Homo sapiens: one gene and its partner. The protein of the gene in region 2 interacts with the protein of the main gene of each other region in a pairwise test. Each region holds a gene or a part of one and is shown on either strand. Other genes may lie near its edges.

What was found.
Region 1: the proteins of ECI2 (region 2) and TNPO3 interact in binary tests that used the Homo sapiens proteins (3 or more experiments, as listed by UniProt).

What each region holds. Positions count from the first base shown.
Region 1 is NC_000007.14:128,968,112-128,971,611, forward strand, and holds part of TNPO3 (transportin-3), read right to left. Parts: intron 2,205-3,500; coding exon 2,037-2,204; intron 1-2,036. UniProt on the Homo sapiens protein: Importin, which transports target proteins into the nucleus. Specifically mediates the nuclear import of splicing factor serine/arginine (SR) proteins, such as RBM4, SFRS1 and SFRS2, by recognizing phosphorylated SR domains.
Region 2 is NC_000006.12:4,129,076-4,132,575, reverse strand, and holds part of ECI2 (enoyl-CoA delta isomerase 2), read left to right. Parts: intron 1-1,710; coding exon 1,711-1,809; intron 1,810-1,810; exon of another isoform or gene 1,811-2,015; coding exon 2,016-2,204; intron 2,205-2,214; exon of another isoform or gene 2,215-2,434; intron 2,435-3,500. UniProt on the Homo sapiens protein: Able to isomerize both 3-cis and 3-trans double bonds into the 2-trans form in a range of enoyl-CoA species. Has a preference for 3-trans substrates.

The DNA.
Region 1 (3,500 bases), on a different chromosome or scaffold from region 2:
TTCAGATACCTGAAAGAGCAGGGGCAAAAAGTATACTAAGCCACCATGTCAGAAAGTATACATATGAGACATATGAGTCCAGAATCTTAAGGATTTTAAGGCCATCTCTCTCAGAATAAGTCCTATCCATTCAGTTCCTTTGTGATATCTGCCTGTTCTTTGTGTTAAAAAACCTTGCTCTTGTTGCTGTTTAATTTACTTATATATTTTTTATATAAGTATATCTAAGAATTCTCTTTATGCCTTTTCTATGCACAAAAATTGTCTACTCCCTTTACTTCCTTCCTTTCTAAAATAAAAATTCTACAGACTTCCTCTGGGTTCTTATTTTCAGTTTAATTGTTGTCCTTTGGGTCAGCACTAATATTTCTTCATCCCTTTCTTAAGTGGAATGTATACTTCAGTCATAGTTTTGGGCTGTAAAATTACTCTTTTATACCTAATTTTTTTTACATTATATATTTTCCCATCATATTCATTTATGGCCATAATAGGCCAGAGCAAAAGTATTATAAATGCTCATGAAGTACTAAGCATTTCTTAATTATGGATACATAACAGCTCCTTAATTCTTAAAAATACATAATAGTTGTTATATAGCAAACTTTTTCTTTTTTGAGACAGGGTCTTGCTATGCAGCTCAGACTGGAGTGCAGTGGCATGATCATAGCTCACTGCAGGCTGGAACTCCTGGGCTTAAGCAATCCTCCTACCTCACCCTCCTGAGTAGCTGGGACTATAGATGTATGCCACCACACCCAGCTAATTAAAAAGAAAAAAAATTTTTTTTTTTTTTGTAGGGATGGGGTCTATGTTGCCCAGGCTGGTAGTCTCAAGCTCCTGGCGTCAAGTGATCCTCCTGCCTTGGTCTCCCAAAGTATTGGGAAGACAGGCATGAGCCATTGTGTCTGGCTGATATACAGTACACTCCTTAGAGTACATGGCTACCTGGTTTCTATTCCTGTCCAAACTTCTTGTTCTCATTTTTTGTTGTTGTTGTTCGCACTTAACAATATGCTTACAATCAAGAATGTTTTCATAAAGTTAGATTTACATAAGTTTTCTGTTACTTGGGAACCAAATGTATTTGTAAAAAAGTTTAAGCAGAGTATGAAGACTTTTTCCCTCAGGTCAAGGACTTTTGAATTAAATTTGCTGATTCCTGGAGGCTCAAAAAGTACTTTTCTTTAGAAAAACAAATATGCTACTCTATCAGGTTGAAATGGAACATGTGTATTGAACCAGAGAGGAATAGGTACTATCTGTTATATATTATTATTATCAATTTTATATTCTGTGGTTCTGTAAGACAGCTCACTTTAACTAGGTCCCAATGAGTACTTTCCTGAACTGCTTTTACAGTAATATTAAAAATTATAAATTCCATTTTAAAAATGATTTCAGGTTATATTATACTTTACCATTCTACTCAACTTTCACACAGTACACATAACCTGAGTTATGGTCATGTGGCCCAGTACTGAAATTACTTGGGCATTATTAGATAGCTTTAAAAAAACAACTCCATCCTTAGGTGGGTGATAAAGGATCTGGTTCAAAGAAATCCAAAGGGGAAATATATCCAACTGTACATTGTGGGTTACTTTGACAATTATGTGCTTCCAAATGTTCTGGCTAGATGTATCACCAAGAAATAATACAGTGCTATAGAATAAGTCTGAAAGGATTAAATACTTCTTGAGTAATACGTAACTAATATAACTGACATTTGGGCATCTCTCACAAGTGAACAAATTTCACATTGGACAGCCACACAACTGAATTCAATGCTTGATACTTACTTCTGGTAATATACCCCCTATGACAGTGACATAGAAACATGCTTTAAAGAACTCAATAATAAATTACTGATCTTTACGGGCCTCTTCATCTACCAATCTAATTTGGCAATATGCCTAAATTTGGTTCCATGGACAGAAAACAGGGCTAGTTTCAAAATTAGGGTTGGCCTTAAGGAACCAAAGCCTATTACATTTAGGGACTATGAGATAAATTCCTCATGAAAACAATCTTACCGGTCTGTCAACCTGCATGATCTCCCAGAGCACTTCAGCCACATCTGGTAGGGTATAGGGGGGGAGGCAAAAGCAGCAGGTGTGCAGCAGCTGGCTGACAAGCTGCTGTCCAAGCTGGTTCATCACCTGTCCAATCAGTTCTTTCCGTAATTCAAAGTCTTCTTCATGCTGTATGTAGGAAAGCAGGAACATCAGATAAATTCTAGTCTCAACTTCCCAAAGACCAAGCACTCTTTCCCCTTTAGTAATTTCTCTTTAATAGGAAAGTGTGTGTGTGTGTGCACGCGTGGCTGTGTGTGTGTGTATGCAGGTGTGTGTAAAATGACAGCTGGATTCACAAAGTCCAGAAGTTTTTTGTCTTTAGAAAGAAAATGAAGGAGTTTATTAGTATCCAAGGAATGAACATGGGTTTCAACAGAGATTAATGCTTAGATTTTTCATGATTTGAAGGCAGAAAACATGGTTAAGAATTAAAGTTAGCAATTTTTAAAATTTTTTTCTCTTCATCTTCTATGTGATGGTATTAATTTTTTTTTAATGTGAAAAATAACTTGTGTTCCTATTTCCTTTTTTAAAAACTAAGTCAGCCTGGCATGGCAGCACACACCATAGTCCCAGCCACTCCAAAGGCGCAGGTAGGGGAACAGCTTGAACCCAGTGTTCTGGGCTAGAGCATGCTATACCAATTGGGTGCCTGTACTAAGTTCAGCATCAATGTGGTGACCTCCCAGGAGTGAGGAACCACTCCTGGGTTGCCTAAGGAGGGAGGGGTGAACAGCCCAAGTCAGAAACAGAGTGGGTCAAAATTCCATTCTGATCTGTAGTGGGATCTCGCCTGTGAATGGCCACTACAGTCTGTCTGGGTAACACAGCCGGAACCCCAAGTCACAACAAAACAAAACAAAACAAAACCAACTGAAATTAGAATTGAAGACGTCTATCAGAGATCTAATTTTTTCTATCGAAAAAAAAAAAACCCTTTTTTTCTTCTTGCGGTCTTTAATTTTTTTTTTTCTGAGACAGCGTCTTGCTCTGTCACCCAGGCTGGAGTGCAGTGGCCTGATCTTAGCTAACTGAAACCTCCATCCCCTGGGTTCAAGCAATTCTCCTGCCTCAGCCTCCCTAGAAACTGGGATTACAGGCATACACTACCACACTTGGCTAATTTTTGTATTTTTAGTAGAGACAGGGTTTCACCATGTTGGCCAGGCTGGTCTTGAACTCCTGACCTCAAGTGATCTGCACGCCTTGGCCTCCCAAAGTGCTGGGATTACAGGCGTGAGCCACTGCGCCTGGCCCTTCTTGTGGTCTTTAAATACACATGTATTTCTAATACCTTGAGAAAAATATTTTTTAAATTGCCTTTCCCTTCTAGTTATTTTCTTCTCTCTTTTACTGCCAAACTTCTTAAATGAATAGCCTAAATAGAATGCAGAATACTTACTTCTTCACTGCTCTCCCCTG
Region 2 (3,500 bases):
TATCTATTTTTCTGTCCTATGATGGGTATGAGCTTCTCTTTCATATGGGTGTGTATAGTAAAAAATTTAACCTTGCCCCAGAAGAGGTGTGGCTTTGCCCTCAGCTTCTGGGAAGTGAATCTCTAATGACTGGTAGGAGTCTTTATTTGCCTGGATTGTCTTAACGATGTGATTTAGGGTGGGGGCTTCAGGTTATACAGTCATGCACAGGTGATGGAGCCCTGTTAAAAACTCTGGACACCGAGACTGGATGAGCTGAGCATCTCTGGTTGGCAGGACTCCCTGTGTACTGTCACATCAATTCTGGTAGAGGTGCCCTATGCTGACTCCATGGGGAAAGGACAATGGAAACTCCACATTTGCTACTGCCCCAGACTCCATCCTGTGTGTGTCCTCCCTTGGATGATTCTAATCTCTATCCTTTCCCTTAATAAACTATTAATTGTGCGTTTAACAGCTTGCAGTGAGTTCTGGGTGTCTTTCTAGCAAATTGTTGCACTTGAGGGTGGTCCTGGGTGCCCTCCAGCCTTGCAATTGGTGTTAGCATTGAGGACAGTCAGGAGACAAAGGCAAGCCCTTATCCTGTGGACTGTGTTCCCTCTAACTTCTAGGTTGGCCAACTCTTGCCAGATGACACTATCTCTGTCTAAAGAAATTCATAACCTCCTTTACTGCCTTTTTCTTTTTTCTTTTTTCTTTTGTTTTTATTTTGTTTTTTTGAGACAGAGTTTTGCTCTGTCACGCAGGGTAGAGTGCAGCGGCACCATCTCAGCTCACTGCAACCTCTGCCTCCCAGGTTCAGGCAATCCTTCTGCCTCAGCCTCCCAAGCAGCTGGAATTACAGGAACCTGCCACCATGCCTGGCTAATTTTTGTATTTTTAGTAGAGATGGGGTTTTACCATATTGGTCAGGCTGGTCTCGAACTCCTGACCTCAGGTGATCCACCCACCTCAGCCTCCCAAAGTGCTGAGATTACAGGTGTGAGCCACCACACCTGGCTTGTTTTTCAAAGACTCTTTCTTCTTTCCTCTCTAACTGTATTATAAAATTTTAAAAATTTTAACTGGAATTTTAAATTGCTATTTCTGAAAAGTAGCTGAGTGGGATATTTTATTCATCTCAAAACACCCACTCCACCTAGCCTCAAAAATAAAATTTAATTCCTTTTTGCTTTTTACTTACATGTTCTTCAGTTAGGTTTCCTAAGAACCAGTAGCTCTGATAGCCCCACCCTAGCCCCTCAGCTACAGTTTTGTTACCCAGGTACCAAAAGTCCACCACTGAATTAGTGGTGTTTTTTTTTGTACCTTCAGATGGGCTTTTGGAATATGCTGTGGGTTTTCAAGTATTTGTTGACTAGTTCCTTGTAAAGATTGTTTGCTTGAATATTTTGATTGTTTGTGGAAAATGTGATTACCAATATAAAACTAATGAACCATTAGATTTTTTTAGAAAATACTTCCCCAAAACCTTTATCCTGCATTATTTTCATAGACAGGCAGTTATAATTTATTTCCAGTCTTTTTTCTGTTTGTGCATTTTTGGCAACAACATCAAAGAGACTGGAGGGGAAAATTCAGATCAATTTACATACCCTGTGAAAGGATTTGGGGGAGGCATTCATGTACTTACAGATTTTATGGATCTTAAATATTTAGGGGTCTAGTTTACATGGACATTTGAACATATTGCCCCTCTCCTTTTCACAGGCCACTGAAGGACCTTGTAACATGCCCAAACCAGGTGTATTTGACTTGATCAACAAGGCCAAATGGGACGCATGGAATGCCCTTGGCAGCCTGCCCAAGGTGAGTTTACTAGTTACTGTGCTTTTATTTGCTGTACTTCTAAAGAAGTTTGTGCTTCTCATTAAGCCATTGTAAATGGAGTCTTCAAGATCTTGATGTGCTTCTATTCTTTCTTCATTGCAAGGTGTTAGTTATTAGTATAGTAACTTTCTCAAAGTGCTTATTCATTGACCATGGGCTGAGGTTGTTTGTCATCGTCCGTTCAGGAAGCTGCCAGGCAGAACTATGTGGATTTGGTGTCCAGTTTGAGTCCTTCATTGGAATCCTCTAGTCAGGTGGAGCCTGGAACAGACAGGAAATCAACTGGGTTTGAAACTCTGGTGGTGACCTCCGAAGATGGCATCACAAAGATCATGTTCAACCGGCCCAAAAAGAAAAATGCCATAAACACTGAGGTAATGTTACCTGCCCACGGAGTTTGTCCTGTTTTACTTTCTTCTTCTATGTGTTTCACACAAAAGCTGTAGAGTTTCAGCATCATTCCTATTTTAAGATATCTCTTGTTTGATTTGTGCAGGAAGGTTGGTAATTGTGGCTACTTCATACAACAGAGTTGAGCATTCATTGTTTAGAGTTTGTGAATTTCAGGTAGGTTCTGATATACCCAGAAGGCACTGTGATTTTCCTAATAATGGAAGCAGAAATAAATGAATATAAATGAAACATGTTGCTATGAGAGAATTTGCATAGAAGCCATCTAAGGTTGGTGTAGACTGCTCCCAGAAGTATCTTCATGTCACTTAGACATGAAAGTAAGTCTTTCTGCTTGCACGGGGGCTTCATTTTTTATAAGTATAGGGAGAAAGGAGAGAAGGACTTCATCTTAAACAAATTATCACCCAGCTCCGCTTTAAAGTAGCTGCTTCACTCGGTAACGTTAGTCTTTGAATCTCTCACTGAACTAGAATGATAATAAAATAACTACCTTAGCCCCTTCTTCTTGAAAAAAATTATAGGGAATTAATTGGATGCTTGGTGCTCAACTGGGACTAAAATTTCAGAGGACTATGACCATTGGGTCAATAACCTCCATTGTGGCAGAAAGAGCATACTCACTTTAAAATCATCTTCAGAATTTCATGAAGTAGGATATGTGTCATTCAACTAATAAAGCATTTAATGCTCAAACTTTATTTCCACTTTCCCCTGACTCATTTCTCTACAACTATAATAATAATAGCTACTCTGTACAGAGTGTCTAATGAGTGCCAGCACTCTCCACACAGAAGTTTATTTAATTCTCACAGGGAGCCTACTGTTATCATTACTTAACAATAAAATAATTAGATTAAGAAGTAACTTACTCAAGTTCACATAACAAATAAGCAGCAAAACCTAAATTGAAACCCTGATAGCCAGTCGTGGTGGCTCACCCCTGTAATCCCAGCACTTTGGGAGGCCAAGGTGGGCAGATCACTTGAGGTCAGGAGTTCAAGACCAGCCTGGCCAACATGGTGAAACTCCATCTCTACTAAAGATACAAAAAATTAGCTGGGCATGGTGGTGCGCACCTATAGTCCCAGCTACTCAGGAGGCTGGGGCAGGAGAATCTTTTGAACCGGGGAGGTGGAGGTTGAGCCAAGATCATGCTATTGCACTCTAGCCTGGGCCTCGCAATGAGACTCCATCTCAAAAAAGAAGGAAGGAAGGAAGGGAGGAAGGGAGGGAGGGAGGGAGAAACCCTGATAATC